Regions from separate parts of the Homo sapiens genome. Here region 1 is linked to region 2. A link means that fine-mapping ties the variant in region 2 to the expression of a gene that starts in the linked region. Tissue or cell type: whole blood. Region 2 holds a variant in brackets; the other region holds the start of a gene. All regions are shown on one strand. Distances are between the middles of the regions.

The links. PIP is the estimated chance that this variant, and not a neighbour inherited with it, causes the effect.
Region 1: it holds the start of COX14, and the variant in region 2 is fine-mapped to the expression of COX14 in whole blood (TOPMed, PIP 0.93).

Annotation. Positions count from the first base shown.
Region 1 is chr12:50,109,375-50,114,374 of GRCh38, forward strand. It overlaps COX14 (cytochrome c oxidase assembly factor COX14), which reads left to right and starts at 2,862. Exons shown (of 2, transcript NM_032901.4): 1 at 2,862-2,927. It overlaps GPD1 (glycerol-3-phosphate dehydrogenase 1), which reads left to right. Exons shown (of 8, transcript NM_005276.4): 8 at 49-1,939. The coding sequence ends at 145. RefSeq lists enhancers at 2,302-2,351, 2,412-2,671, 2,892-3,131, 3,142-3,191.
Region 2 is chr12:50,144,573-50,149,572 of GRCh38, forward strand. The region is part of intron 1 of CERS5 (ceramide synthase 5); the gene reads right to left. The region is part of intron 1 of LOC124902931 (a long non-coding RNA gene); the gene reads left to right. Among named protein-coding and RNA genes, the nearest start is that of CERS5, 20 kb to the right of the region's middle. The variant G/A (reference allele first, on the strand shown) is at 2,007.

The DNA.
Region 1 (5,000 bases), 35 kb before region 2:
TGGACCAGGAGTGGGAGGCTAAGCTGAGCCTTTCCCTCTCCAATCTAGGTTTCCCTTGTTCATGGCTGTGTACAAGGTGTGCTACGAGGGCCAGCCAGTGGGTGAATTCATCCACTGCCTGCAGAATCATCCAGAACATATGTGAGTGGGGCCAGGGCCCAGGCCAGGCCGCTTTTTTACCCCAGTGGAGACCAGCAGAAGCCTGGGGTACCTAGTCACCAGGATCTCCAGGACTCCCAGGGAGCAGAGTCTTCTCATCTTTTCACTGGAGGACAGGAGGCTATGGGGCCCAGCTACGCACCTGGAGATCCTGAACTGTCAAGCCACTGGCAGCCTCATGCCACCACATTTGCCAGAAATGCAGTTGCCCTGTCCCTCTCCAGATGTGGGGCTTTCTCCATATCCTCTGGGAGGGGTGGAATCAAGCCCCAGTGCTGCCTGCTTGGTGGCGGGGGTGATGTATGTGGAGAAGGGTTGGGGGAGAGGCCGGTAGGGCAGGGGCTGCTAGTGGCTGTCTCACATACACCAGTAATCCTGTTAAAGGGCTGAAGAAGTATCTTAGCCACAGGAGCGATGAGGCAAGGATTGTCAGGGAGGGGTCTGGGCTTCTGAGCTGATGCAGGCCCCAAGGACCCCTTTGCTGACCTCTGCCAGGACCCACACAGCTTCGATGGATCTCAGTGTTTGTTAACAAAATACAAAGATCTCAAACAAACCCCTTTTAGCTTCTCCTAGCAACATCTGTGTCCTCAGAAACCTCTGGTTCTCCCCCTTCCCCCTCCCCCAGGCTGCCCTGGCACCCAAATTGCTGCCATGCTGGCATCTGTAGCTCGGTGGCTTGACATTCTCCCCAGGGACTTCCCGGTTCCTAGTTCTTTGCCAGCTCCTCCCCACTCTGTGCGACCTTTCCAAGCCTTCCCTCACCCTCCCCGCCAGCACCCTCTTTGGGGAGCAGGAACTTAATCTGCTGACAGAGCTACACCTTTCATAACAGGCTCAGATCACTCAGCTCCCTGTGACCTTTGTATTCACCCAGGCTTCCTTCTCAGTAGCTCTAGCTGGGGGAGGTGTCAGCTGGGCCCCTCCTGTGCTATCTCCCCAGAGGACATCCCTGACTCCACCCCTTTCTTCCTCCCAAACTCTGCACCTCTTCCTCAGCTGCTCCAGACCGGCCAGGGTAACCAGCTAACCATGCCTGGCATCTGGAAGCCAGCAGGCCAGAGGGTGGCCCAAAGGCTGATGAACGGTAGGGAAGGGTGAGCAGATTCCTATGTTGGTGGGCACCAATATTCCAAGGGCAGCTCTCTTTGCTGAATGAGGGCCTTCTCGTGAGGTACTGACAACACCAGCAACTCGAGAGCTGGGAAACTCAAGGAGGAGGAAGAAAATCAAAACCACCCTACTCCCTGGGGTGAGGAAAGAACAGGAGGGGAGGAGGAGGAGTGTGCTCTGCACTTGCCTTGCTCCAGGATGGGGTGGCAGCAGAGGAATGTCACAGGTCAGCAGCCTAGGCCTCCAGCTATAAATAGTCCGGAGGGCCCGAGAGGCTCCCGCCCGTCCAGCAGGGCTGTCAGCTTCCTGTGTGGCAGCACCTGGCACACTGGCTCTGGCCAGCATTATGCTAAAACCCTGTTACTCTCCAATGAACCAGGGAGGCGGGCTCCTCTCTGCGCCTATCCCTTGAGAATTCTGTCTTACCAGTGAAGGGTGGGGCTGCCCAGATCAGGCAGCAGGAGTGAGGGGCACAGTCACCCCAGGCCTTGCTGAGCCCAGGTCTGGGTACTGAGTGTCCAGAGCTGCCTCCCCAGGAGGTTAAGGTGGGGGCAAAGGGGAAGCTTCAAGCACTTTGCCTACTTTTGTTCACTCCCCAGTGCACTGTGACTCAGGCCTTCCCATCAGGCCTATTTGTCTACCCAATAAAGCGTGTTTTTTCCAGAAACAAGAAGAGTTGGGAGAGGGAGCTTCAGTGCATGTGGCAGTGCGTGTGCTGGCGCGTATCATTGCACGTATGTTTTCCCTCTTACCGTAGGAAAAATGAAAAAAGAAATCCCTCCTCCATAATCGCAGCTACTCCAGGGGTCAGCGGCGGTGCCCACTCAGTCCCCATCCCTCTCTCTCCCCTCCCGCCAGCGCCCCCTCCCGCCCTCGCCGCAAGCTGGCCCCGGCCTTGCCGGCCCTTCTTAGGGGCTTTATCATGCCTCCTGCAAGAATAGAGATCACACACGGGACGGAAACGTTAGACTCTCATCCCTTGTGCCCATTCCTTGGTCACGGGCCAAGCTGCCGCATCCTTAGCGGTCCAGGCATCGCGGTGCCCCTCGGGCCCCTACCTGGACTAGGCCCACAGCCGGGCTCTAGGGGGCGCGCGATCCACCTCCAGAAGGCCGGCTGCGAAAATCTACCCAGCTACTGGCGACGTCACCGCACCGTAGGCTGAGGATTGGCTGACTCTGATTTAGCATCCTAAAACTTCCGGTTCCAGAGCTTGGCTCGCCAAAGACCCTCCCTCGAGGGAGAGAAACCACAGCCCCCAGAATTCAGCGGGCCTCTCCGAGAGCACGGCGCGTCTGAGGATGCGTAGTAAGGATAACGGGCCCGGAAGCCGGAAGTTCAAAGCCGGCCTCCAGCCAGAGTGACGGCCTGCGCGGACTCCCGCCTTAGTGGGCGGAGTTGTGCCGCGTCTGATGCGCAGTTCCCTTTATAGCGCGGCAAGCCGAATCCTAGAGGCTAACCCGGCAGGTGGGAGGGAGAAAGTTGCTTTCTGCACCAATAGCTGAGGCGTTCAGGGTTGTCCAGGGACGCTACCCTCACGTGTCTGGTTCCGAGTGCTGCGTTCGGCTGTGCTGGGAAGTTGCGTAGACAGTGGCCTCGAGACCCTGCCTGCCTGAGGAGGCCTCGGTTGGATGCGAAGGAGCTGCAGCATCCAGGTACGCTGCCGGCTAGGGCCGAGCAGGGGCTGCCAGTCCCACTGCCTGCGCGCCCACCTGGGCCAGTCTCCGCTTGCCGCGTCCTCCCATCCCCTAGTCTGCAGGCCTGGTGCCCTTGAATTCACCCGCTTCTGTTGCGTTGCGGACCGCGAGCTGCACTGCTTCCTGCCCAAGCCCAAGCTCCTCGCAGCAGTAGGTCAGTCTTGCTAGAGCTCAGCGCTAATCCTGTCAAACCTCGACTCCTGCCTGGCGTCTCGACCCTCCACGCTCCAACTCTGCCTCTTCCTTGCTCTATAGACCTCTGCGTCCTGATAAGTGGCTCTCCGGGGCACCCTTCGTGCATATCGGCTATCCAGCTCCACCTCTTGACCGCTTTCACTTCCTGGAATGCTCTCACTGCTCCTCTTCTCCAGGCCATCCTTCTAAAAAGACAGTTCCACTCCCACCCCGATTCCCACCCCTACACCTTTCTGCTAAGTTTTCTCAAGCCCCCACCCTGTCTTTGAGCTGTTGTCTCTGAACTCTCACAGTGCCTCTCCATGAGACCATAAGCTCCTGTATGACAGAAGCCATGTTCTTTTTAGCGGCCTCCGTAGCATGATGTACGTTATGTTATGTTATGTTATGTTATGTTATGTTATGTTATTTTGAGACAGGGTCTTGCTTTGTCGCTCAGGCTGCAGGTGTGCGCCACCACGCCCGGGTAATTTTTAAAAAAAGGTTTTTTTTTTGTTGTTGTTGTTGTTGTTTTTAAATAGAGAAAAGGTCTCCCTATGTTGCCCAACCTGGTCTCCAACTCCTGAGCTCAAGCCATCCTCCCGCCTCGGCCTCCCAAAGTGTTGGGATTACCGGCGTGAGCCACCGTACCCGGCCGATGTACTACTCTCTAAGTGCCAAACAAAAAGTAGATAAAAGATGATGGATACCTTAAAAGCCCTGAGTTGACCACTATGCAGTGTATGCATGTAACAAAATCGCACTTCTACCCATACGTTTACGCAATTTTTTTTTTTTTTTTTTGAGACGGAGTCTTGCTCTGTCGCCCAGGCTGGGGTCCCGTGGCGGGATCTCGGCTCACTACAAGCTCCGCCTTCCGGGTTCATGCCATTCTCCTGCCTCAGCCTCCAGAGTAGCTGGGACTACAGGTGCCCGCCACCACGCCCGGCTAATTTTTTGTGTTTTTAGTAGAGATGGGGTTTCACTGTGTTAGCCAGGATGGTCTCGATATCCTGACCTCGTGATCCACCCGCCTCGGCCTCCCAAAGTGCTGGGATTACAGGCGTGAGCCACTGTACCCGGCCGTTATTTTATTTATTTATTTATTTGTTTGTTATTTTATTTATTTTTTTGAGACGGAGTCTCGCCCTGTCGCCCAGGCTGGAGTACAGTGGCGCGATCTCGGCTCACTGCAACCTCCGCCTCCCGGGTTCAAATGATTCTCCTGTCTCAGCCTCCTGAGTAGCTGGGATTACAGGCATGTGCCACCATGCCTGGCTAATTTTTGTATTTTTAGTCAAGACAGGGTTTTATCATATTGGCCAAGATGGTCTCGAACTCCTGACCTCAGGTTATCAGCCCACTTCTGCCTCCCAAAGTACTGAGATTACAGGTGGCTCACGCCCAGCCTTTTTTTTTTCTTTATTATCATTATTATTATTATTTTTAGAGACACAGTCTTGCTCTGCAAGTGCAGGGCCGTGATCACAGCTCACTGCAGCCCCAAACTCGTTGGCTCAGGCAAGCCTCCCACCCAAACCTCCCTAGTAGCTGGGACTGCAGGTGCATGTCACCACACCCAGCTATGGTTCTCAATTTTTATTCTAGCCTAACACACTGGAAAGATACAGTACACCTCCATCAGTGGCAGTGACTTGATTCAGCAGTGGTTTTCAACCAGGAAGGGGGATGTAGTTAAATGAAAAAAAAAAAAAAAAAAACAGGTGTTTCTGGAATTTTTTTTTTTTTGAGGGGTGGAGTTTCACTCGTTGCCCAGGCTGGAGTGCAGTGGCGCGATCTCAGCTCACCACAACCTCCGCCTCCTGGATTCAAGCGATTCTCCTGCCTCAGCCTCCT
Region 2 (5,000 bases):
CTTCCTGCATATAGATATCCTGGATCTTGGATACCTTCCTGCCTAACCAAGAGATTATGGAAATACTTAGATCTTTCAGGAGTCGAGAAGAAAGAAATCAGGAAGCTAGGAAAGGTGAGAAGGAAATCACCTATTAGCACTCTATCGTAGTCTCAGATCTACTAATAAGGCATATAAACTTGGTAAAATCACTTACCTCTTGGGTCTTGGTTTCATCATCTAAAAGAAGAGGTTATATCAAGCAGAGTCCCAAGGATTTAAATTTTTAAAAAGAATAAAAAAGCCGGGCGTGGTGGCTCACGCCTGTAATCCCAGCACTTTGGGAGGCTGAGGCAGGAGGATCACAAGGTCAGGAGTTGGAGACCAGCCTGGTCAACATAGTGAAACCCCGTCTCTACTAAAAATACAAAAAAAAATTATCTGGGCGTGGTGGTGGGCGCCTGTAATCCCAGCTACTTGGGAGGCTGAGGCAGGAGAATTGCTTGAACCCTGGAGGCGGAGGTTGCAGTGAGCCGAGATTGTGCCACTGCACTCCAGCCCAGGCGACAGTGTGAGAATCCGTCTCAAAAAAAAAAAAAAAAAAAAGAAGAAGAATAAAAAATAAAAAGAGGTTATATGAGATGATTTCTAAGATTTTTTTGTATATCTAAGATTCTATGATGTTATCATTGATTGATTATAATTAATTTCCAACTTTTGAATCTTTGAAAATTGAGGAACTATTCCTTGGTTCTTCAAGAAAGATCTCACTCTCCCCCGTAATCAGAGATTTTTAAGAACATCAGCACTAGGAAAACTCTATATTGCCACTTTCAGGATAAGTCAAAACCAGTTTTAGCCCTTAGCATCTTAAGGAGTCCCATAATGAAAATATGACTGGGAGGTGTAAAATGGAGTGCCGTTAACCTATTTTCTTGAGCTGCATTTGAACCTAGAATATATTATCTCTAAAGGAGGGATTGAGAATAAGAAACTTTATCTCCCTCTATGAAAACTTTTTACCTTATCACCAAAGTTCCTGAGCCATAGAGTAATATTTATTCAGAGCATAAATTTAGCCACATCTGTAACACATTCTCTTTTACACCGGTGGGGGGGAAAAAAAAAATAGTTCCATTCAAAGGCCAATGCCAGTGGATACCTTAATTTACATTTACTGGTATACTATTCTGTATACCAATAATATTTAACCCCCAACTCATGTTTAAACTCCTTGTAAACACAAATAGACTGCTTTTATATTTACCAAGGTACTATGCTCAGCAGTTGCTCAGTAACTGACAAGCAACATGTTTTAGTGAAACCCACTCTTGTTGTATTGGAGGTCAATTCTGACCCAAAATTAATCAGCATTCAGAAGAGTAAATGAGGCCGTCATTCTTTGTTGTTGAGTTGATGCCATATCAGAGATAAAAATCATCTAAAAACCCTGTCTCCTCCTTTCTCCTATCGACATAATTGCATGAAAATCCAAAGGCAGAAAACAGCCTTTCCAATTCCTACTCTTACCCCTAACCCAGGCTTCTTTAATCCAGAGGCAGTCAGCTGATTAAAACTCAGATCTGCAGTTAGACAGATTTTACCAGCTGAAAGACCTTGTGACTGTTACATACCCATAGAATGGAGATAATATCTACCTCACAGGGTTATTTTAAAGATAAAATGAAACAATGTATGCCTACACCAATACCTGACACTTAGCAAACATTCATTAAAGAGTAGCTATTATTATTTCACTAGAAACATATTTCAGTCTGGGTACTCTCTGGTACCTCCAGCAGAAAGTGAGAAGCAAGAAATACTCTTTGATATAACAGGTCTATATTCTGCTCACCTCGGTGAAGCCAATTTTAAAATTACTATTATCTGGATCATGGAGTGGACTTAACAATCTAGAATTGTCATTAGCTCACATCCTGCCCTCGTTAGTTCAGAGTTCGGTGAAAAGCATAAAGCTACTCATATCCAGTCAGTTCCAGCTATATGGAGCGTAAGAACATTTGACA[G/A]CCGGGCGCAGTGGCTCACGCTTGTAATCCCAGCACTTTGGGAGGCCGAGGTGGGCGGATCACGAGGTCAGGAGATCGAGACCACGGTGAAACCCCGTCTCTACTAAAAATACAAAAAATTAGCCGGGCGTGGTGGCGGGCGCCTGTAATCCCAGCTACTCGGGAGACTGAGGCGGGAGAATGGCATGAACCCGGGAGGCGGAGCTTGCAGTGAGCCGAGATCGCGCCACTGCACTCCAGCCTGGGCGACAAAGTGAGACTCCGTCTCAAAAAAAAAAAAAAAAAAAGAACATTTGACAAATACTTGTTGATTGTTTATTTTGTGCTACAGAATGAAGCTTTATTATATTTTCCAGATGTGATTGGAAAATAATCTTTTCTAATTTGTGATAAAAATTAAATATATAGATTTAGTTATACACAGTTAATGAATTACCTTACTGAAGAAAGTGAAATTATTTGAAATTATAGCTTTTGAGAAAGTATTAATTCTACATCATACAAAAGGTTGGTATTTGGTATAACTTATAAAACAGGTATCTAGGCCAGGCGCGGTGGCTCATGCCTGTAATCCCAGCACTTTGGGAGGCTGAGGCGGGCGGATCACGAGGTCAGGAGTTCGAGACCAGCCTATCCAACATGGTGAAACCCCATCTCTACTAAAAATACAAAAAGTTAGACAGGCGTGGTGGTGTGTGCCTGTAACCCCAGCTACTCAGGAGGCTGAAGCAGGAGAATTGCTTTTACCCAGGAGGCGGAAATTACAATGAGCTGAGATCACGCCATTGCACTCTCTCTGGCCTGGGTAACAGAGCGAGACTCCATCTCCAAAAAAAAAAAAAAAAAAAATAGGTACCTAGGGTGGTCAATTTCCAGAGCCTGGCATTCATCATTTCTGCTACATCAGCATTTCTCAAAGTGTGGTTTAGAGACCCCTGGGGGATCCAGAGACCCTTTCAGTAGGTCTACAAGGTCAAAACTATCTTCAGAATAATTCTATAATTTCATAAAAATCTATTCTCTCTCATGAGAGTACAGTGGAACTTTCCATAAGTTACATGACATATAACAACAGACTGAATGCAGACGCTGACATGAGACTACAGCTGCCAGATATTTTCAAAAATGTTAAAATGCTACTCTTCTCACAGTTTTTTGTTTTGGAAAATAGTTATTTTTCATAAAACGTAATGAGTTCATTGTTATTTATTTATATTGAGACAGGGTCTCACTCTGCCACCCAGGCTGGAGTGCAGTGGTGTGATCACTGCTCACTGCAGCCTTGACTTCCTAAGCTCAAGTGATCCTCCCACCTCAGCCTCTCAAGTAGCTGGGACTACAGGTGTTGGCCATGCCCAGCTAATTAAAAAATTTTTTTTTTTGTAGAGACAGGGTTTCACCATGTTTCCCAGGCCATTGCTATTTTTAAATGAATAAATATGGGCTGGGCACGGTGGCTAATGCCTGTTATCCTAGCACTTTGGGAGACTGAGACAGGTGGATCACTTGAGCCCAGGAGTTTGAGACCAGCCTGGGAAACGTGGTGAAACCCTGTCTCTCCCCAAAACACAAAAGTTAGACAGGTGTGGTAGCTCATGCCTGTGGTCCCAGCAACTTGGGAGGTTGAGGTGGGAGGATCACTTGAGCCTGGGAGGTCGAGGCTGCAGTGGGCTGTGATTGCGCCACTGCACTTCAGCCTGTGTGATAGAGCCAGATCCTGTCTCAAAAATAAATAGGCTGTATGCGGTGGCTCATGCCTGTAATCCCAGCACTTCGGGAGTCTGAGGTGGGCAGACTGCTTGAGCTCAGGAGTTCAAGACCAGGCTGGCCAACATGGTGAAACCCCATCTCTACCAAAAAATACAAAAATTAGCCAGGCATGGCGGCACATACCTGTAGTCCCAGCTGCTCAGGAGGCTGAGGTGAGAGGATCTCTTGAACTCGGGAGACAGAGGTTGCAGTGAGCTGAGATCTCACCACTGCACTCCAGTCTGGGCGACAAAGCAGACTCTGTCTCAATAATAAATAAATAAATAGGCCGGGCGTGGTGACTCAGACTTGTAATACCGGCACTTTGGGAGGTTGAGGCAGGCTGATCACTTGAGGTCAGGAGTTTGAAACCAGCCTGGCCAACATGGCGAAATGCCATCTTCTACTAAAAATACAACAACAAAAAATTAGCCGGGCATGGTCGTGCACACCTGTATTCCCAACTACTCAGGTGGCTAAGGCAGGAGAATTGCTTGAACCCGGGAAGCGAAGGTTGCAGTGAGCCAAGATTGCGCTACTGCACTCCAGTTGGGGTGACGGAGCGAGACTCCATCTCAAAAAAAAAAAAAAAAAAAAAAAATATATATATATATATATATGTGTGTGTGTGTGTGTGTGTGTGCGTGTAGACATTTTATACATGTATAAATACATGTAGAAAACATGTACATTTTCCCCATTTTTTTTCTAAAACAGTAGACATTGATAGGTACTATCCACATAAACAAAAACTCTTTGGGATCCTTGAAAATTTTTTAAGATTGTAAAGGAGTCCTGAGATCATAGTTTGAAAACTGCTGTGCTAGATGATACTGACAAATTATACTTTTAGTGTGGCTTTCTGTCTTCTCCAGGATCAATCCACATTTTAAAATAATTTGTCAGACAAGATTTTTCCTTTCCTGGCAGATTTTAGTAAGTAGGCATTTAGTGGTCTATAAAAAGAAGCTACTACTTTCCACCTGTAACTCCAGGAACACGAGTCTAGTGACCCATCCTGACAGTATTAGATTTGTCCTGCTTTGTAGAGATCATTTCACTCTGCCCTTTTCCTGCTCTCCAGATACATAGCAGCAGTTGACCTAAGCCTGGGTTAATTAGGATGAAATTACCTAGTGCTTTCGCTTTTTCCTATCAAAGACAGGATGTATATTCACAATGCTACTTTTGTGATTCATTACACCACTGATGAATATGAATTATACACAAATAAAACCAAAGTCT